2 separate regions of the Homo sapiens genome follow, and region 2 is linked to region 1. Evidence: fine-mapped expression QTL. A gene starts in region 1. The other region holds a variant in brackets. All regions are shown on one strand. Distances are between the middles of the regions.

Evidence for each region. PIP is the estimated chance that this variant, and not a neighbour inherited with it, causes the effect.
Region 2: its variant is fine-mapped to the expression of LAMB3 in whole blood (TOPMed, PIP above 0.99).

Annotation. Positions count from the first base shown.
Region 1 is chr1:209,651,023-209,653,874 of GRCh38, reverse strand. LAMB3 (laminin subunit beta 3) reads left to right here and starts at 1,450. Exons shown (of 23, transcript NM_000228.3): 1 at 1,450-1,506. RefSeq lists an enhancer at 749-1,948.
Region 2 is chr1:209,754,884-209,757,787 of GRCh38, reverse strand. TRAF3IP3 (TRAF3 interacting protein 3) reads right to left here and starts at 1,735. Exons shown (of 17, transcript NM_025228.4): 1 at 1,479-1,735. RefSeq lists enhancers at 1,163-1,572, 1,853-2,012. The variant G/T (reference allele first, on the strand shown) is at 1,554.

The DNA.
Region 1 (2,852 bases):
TGACCTTACTTGCTGAGTTGAGCTAGATTTCACTGGAATGCTTACAGGGGGCAAGACTCTAACATTTATTGGACTATCAATTATGCATCAACTTACATCAACAACTCACTGCCCACTTGCTAATTACACTATTTCTTCTGCCTACCTGAACTTATGCTTAATTCGAATCTGAGGGTTAGAAATGCCCAATTTAATCCACAAAATTCTACATTTCCCCCTTAAGGGTCTTCAAGCCAATTTCTTGGACATAACCCTCCAATGGTGGAGAACTTTCTGTTTAGGAGACACTAACAAAGTGGAATCGTAGTTAAGAAGCTCCTTTAAATAGTAGCTTTGAGGTCCTAGCATTCCAAAACGGTGCCAGTGCAGGCTCTCCAGGGCCAAGATATGGACTGGCTGACCCTCCAGGTTTCCCTAAAAGCTCTCTGACCCTAACCTGGGGGAAAGAGTGTCCTGTGAGACCAGCCTCTCAATTTGGACCTGCCACTTCCATTTACAGTGGCTGGAAGCCCAGGATCCCTGAGCAAGGAGCCCACAAAAGAAGCTGTGTTCTCAGGCCTGGCAGGAGGCCAGGGAAAGTCTGTTTTGACTTTGTCAGTCAAGCTATGCTTCAGCCTTTCCTTCCACCACTTGTGGTCAGGTCTGTTTTCTGGCCCTCCAGGCGGGCATTCCTGCCTAGGGAGGGAGGGGCTAGGAGACTAACCCTCCCCACAGGTGGGAGGAGTGACTCACAGGCAGCTACCTGTCCCAGGGCTCCCTGCCAACCCTGTGGAGGGAGCTGGAGGCGAGCCATTTAGTTACTCTGCTCATTTCTCTTAAGCTTTCCTTGGATGAGTTGAGCTTTGAATCCTTCCTGATGAACCTTGCCTTTTAAGGATCCTCCAAATGCCCCAAGAAGCTGGGATTTTTCATTTTTTTTTTCACTGGGGAGGGGAATGGTGCTTTCCAGGGTCCTGGATGTTTGAGTCTTCTCACCTTCCAGCCCGGTGATATGTCTGGAGCTTTAACTCTCTATATAAGCCCTAATCTTTGTGTTCTCTGCCTGATCTTCTGTCTGGGGTGGTCCAGGTCACAAGAAGAAGCTGACCCCTGCTGGCTTTGGGAAAATGCTGAGTTCATTGCCTGGCACAAATGCAAGGGCCCTTCCCCACCCTGTGAATTCTGGTCTCTGATGATCACTTACATGTGCCTTGTGCTTTCTGTTTGAGGGGCCCCTTGCAGCCCCCACAGGCAGGTGGGCATTGTGGAGCTCACTACAAGAACTCTGGGACGGACCGACCAACCCACTTGCCCAGTCCCGTCCTGGGAGGTGGGGGTGCAGTGACGACAGATGGGTGTGACGGCTGCCAGATTCCTGAGACCCGCCCTGCGGTGGGGCTACACCCAGCCAGGGAGTCTCCAGAGGTGAGGCTGTTGTTTAAAAACCTGGAGCCGGGAGGGGAGACCCCCACATTCAAGAGGAGCTTTCAGGCGATCTGGAGAAAGAACGGCAGAACACACAGCAAGGTATGTTACCTGTCTTTACCTGCCTGGTGCGGGCCGGATGCGGGAGGAGGACTGTATCTCTGGATGCCTGGGGCCTGGTTTCAGGGCCTGATTTATTCCTCTTCCTGGGAGCTCACTCAGGTGAGCTAGGTTAAAATGTCTGCTACAGTTTTGATTTCTTTTTCACATTTGATAAGCACCTCAGTGGCTTAGAAGAAAGCAGGTTCAGATCCGGGGTTGAGCACAAAAGAGAAGTGAGAAGGGTGGGCTGGCCTGGCTCAGAATGCCTACTTGCAGGGGGATTTTCAGTCAGGGGTGGGAAAGCTGAGAAAGCACTGGATGAAAGTCAGAAGATGGGTCTCTCTTAGGCCATCGTTAGCTGTGGGACCCCAGGCCACATGTTCCCTCCCTGGGCCCATGACTCTTTTAGGAGAGGGATTGGAAGGAATGATTTTGAAGCATTAGGATCTATAATTTAAAGATGCCAGAAATGTCCTCAATTTCCCCCCCCGCCCCTGCCTTGCCAAGCCCCCAGCCCTCCACCCCAGCCAAAAGAGTTTGTGGCTGTCATTGGAACAGAGTGAACATCCAATTCAAGGCAGAAGGGTCACTGCATGAGCAAGGGTGGGGCATGTTTCCACAAGGCAGGCCTGCCTCTGGGACCCCACGGTGGCTTTCGAGCATCCTTCCCCAGCCTCCTTCAGAATCCCTGCTTTGTGGCCTCCCAGCCCCACCCCTCTTGTCGAGCCCCAGCCCATCATTGAAGACATTTTGGGTTGCTTCCCTTTCAGAAGAAACCCTCACTCACTTGTTAAAGACAGCCATACATCTCTCCCTGTTGCATCCCAGAATTGTGGGCACAGAGCCTCAAACTCAAAGTGGCCCTGAATGGTATTGGAGGCCATGCCCGTGACAGGAGAAGGTTTGCCTCCAGGCCGTCAGCCACTCTGACTCATTCACTTTGGGCGGGGCTGGGTTGAGGCTGCTGGTCTAGGCCCTGAGAAAAGCCAGCCCTCTCTCTTGGGGCTGGAACTAGGTCTTGGCCCTTTCTACAGCTTTTCTCCTGCAAAGGGTCCAGCCTTTTCCTGCTCCCCACGTTGTCCTTACGGCTGTGTGGGGTAGGGCAGGGTCCACACTCCTTCCCATCCATTTTAGAGGAGGAAGCTGGAGTCTGGGAAGGGATGGGATTTTCCCAGGGCACCCTGTGAGTCACATGCCACTTGAGACAAGGGTCTAGAGCTCCAGCATTTTCCAAGCTACAAATGTATCTGCTGCTCCAAGTGTCCTAGATCAGGACCCTAGGTAAAGACTTCTGAAAAATACTTGAGTCTAGAAACAGAAAAGAAAAAGGGCTAGTGTGCTCTAGG
Region 2 (2,904 bases), 100 kb before region 1:
AAAGTATTCCTATTAGGTTGGTGCAAAAGTAATTGCGAATATTATCCTTGTTATGCCGATGTTGGATATTGAAGACTTGGTGCTGTAAGACAAAGGCTCCAAGCTAAACTAGCACTTCTAGGACCAAGAATGCCTTCTCTCATCCTCTCAACCCTCTCTCTCTTTGACAGAGTATATTGTTTACCAGATTGAGGGGATGCTGGCCCCAGGCTGAAGTCACATTTACTTCTGACCTCTGGGTTTGGGCTATAAGGAGAAAGGCTTCTCTGTGGTCTGGACATAATTGCCATCCCAATTACACCAAGCCGAAAGGTAAGGAAGAGATGGGGTCTGCCTGTGTCACACATAAGGTGTGAGGTCCCCTCCCTGTTTGGCTCAGCTTCCCCACAGGTTTTGTAGTGGAGGCAGAACATTGAGAATCCTCCTACCTTCTTGCCGCGAAGAGGAAAGGGCTGTGGGGGAGAAGACAGTGCCTGAGATGAGGTCTCTCTGGGCTCTCCACCCAGGCCACCAACCTTAGTCCACTGAAACACACAGCTGCTCTGCTCTCTGCTTCCTTGGGGCAGACATGGAGCCTTCTTACCCAAGAAAGGAGCTGCAGTGGAAATGGCTCCTTAGAGAGGGGAGTGTTCCCAGATGCCTTGGCTACCACACCTGCTAGGATTTGGTGCAGCATGCTGCATAGAACCCTACCCAGGTTTCTGGGATATCTGGACCCTACTGACTTGCTTGAAAACAAGAAGGTATGTGGGACGGCTGACAGGGGTAGGCTGCTAAAGAAAAGGGAACTGGTCCCTGTAGGGTTCAAAGAAAGATCACTTGGCCACTGCCCAGGCTTTCTGGCATCTCTCAGGTTCCCCCCTGGCAGCATGACTGGGCTCACTTAGAGCTTGGAGGAAGAAGGTTTACTGGCTGGGAAGGCTCAGCCTGGTCTCTCAGGCTGCAGAGAGAGAACAGGGCATGGCTCCTCACCTGACTGTGGCTTGACATGCCTTTCTGAGTCTCGCTTTTACTTCCTGGCCATGTTTGTAATGGAGACAATGAATGGCTTCCTGCATGGGTTGGCCTTCCTGGCCCAGAGCTCTCAGTGTGAACTGAGGGGAGAGGGGCCTGCGCTTAAGCTGCTGGGAAGGCAGTCTTGTGTTCAGGGATCCCTGCTTTGAAGAAAACTGTAAAAGGTCATTTAATTCATGCCCATATCACTGGGTAGCCTGAACTCTAAGTCGTTTGACTCACTCCTAATCTAATGTAATCTAATCTACTGGAACAGAGGAGTGGTGCAAGCTGTACCCTGTGCCATGGCTAGCGCCACAGGAAACCAATACAGGATACTTTCTTGGTTACCCAAACCCCTGACACCCTTAAACTATGCCACCCACTCTCCACCCAGGGGAGCTGGGATGGTAGAGCATCTTCTGCCCTACCCCGAAGTTGGAGTTCCCAAACCTGGACACAAAAGCATCCTCCTTCTCAGTTACCTCCTAGTCCCAGGCTCCAACTCAAGCCACTCGGGAAAGCATTCCAGTCCTGGGCAGATCTTGGCTCTGGTCTCA[G/T]ATGGAGCAAGACAGCAGATGGGTAAAGCACACGCTTTCAATCCATAGGTCTGGGCCCCATTAACACGTCCCTTCTTGGTACCGTCTTTCTTTTTGCACAGCAGCCTTGCTGAAACAGGAAACAGACAAAGCCACAAGGTTCGCAAACCCCAGTTCCTCTCTCTTGCTCTCTGGTATCATCTAAGTGGGCCCCTGAACTCTGAGGCCTCCAGGGCTGGGCTCAGGAGCTCCTCCCATCAGTAGGCACCCCGGCCACCCTTTCTCTTGCTACTGGATTGGTCGGAGCTCTTGGACAGTTTCAAGTCAAGATTCCTTTCCATGATTAGAAAAGGATAGTCCTCTGGGTCAGATTCAGACCTTTGTGGTTTCTATGAGAGGGAAAAAAATGCCTTTTTGGTGGTAAGACCTAGATGAGATGTTCTCAGTGTAGGCTTTCATGTGTATCAGGTAGTTCTTTGTGTAAGGATTTTCCTTTTTCTTTAGCCACCTCTTCCCAATCCTGGTGTTGTAAAGAGTTTCTGCTCTTCTGAAGTAGGTGGTGTCTTTCTCAGATTCTGGAATGAGACCAACTCTGGATTTGCTCCTTTCTGGAGCAATGAGGAGGGAGTGTAAAGGTGGGTAGCTGGGGGATGAAGGAAGGAATAGAAGGCAGAGTCTTCTACACATTTTTTTATCTGGTCAACCGGACTAGGAAATTTAGGGAAAAACTAAAGGGAACTGATTTGCATGCATTAAGATGAAGCCATCACAAATGATGCAGCCAGGAAATTCCCAAGAAGTTCAGGCTAAAATAGTGGAGAGGAAACTGGATTGGGACAAGTTAACTGAGCAGCTTTGTAACCTTGTAAAATTCACCTTGTCTGGATGCTACTCACTGTGGTAGTTGGGTGATGTATGTGGCTCTTTGGAATTCTAAGGTTTGACACATGTGAGGCAGGTAATGAGACTTAAAAATAGCTGTGATAACATTTATTAACATGTGGAGAGTTTGTCACCATTTTCTCTGCTTCTGCTTCTTTCTCTGTTCTTTGAGGAGAAAAAGGACAAGGAATCGGCAGGGAAAAGCAGAGGATGGATTCTCAAGCACTAGGACTGAAGACAAGTGGCATTTACTCAGGATGAGAGACAACAGCTCAAGGCCCTGTGTCTGGAGCTTGACACATAGAGATGGGAATGAGTAGAGGACAGAGGGCTTGGGGAGCCCAAGATGTCAGAAAAAGAGAATTTTGGCCGGGCACAGTGGCTCACACCTGTAATCCCAGCACTTTGGGAGGTCCAGGTGGGTGGATCACTTGAGGTCAAGAGTTCAAGACTAGCCTGGCCAACATGGTGAAACCCCATCTCTACCAAA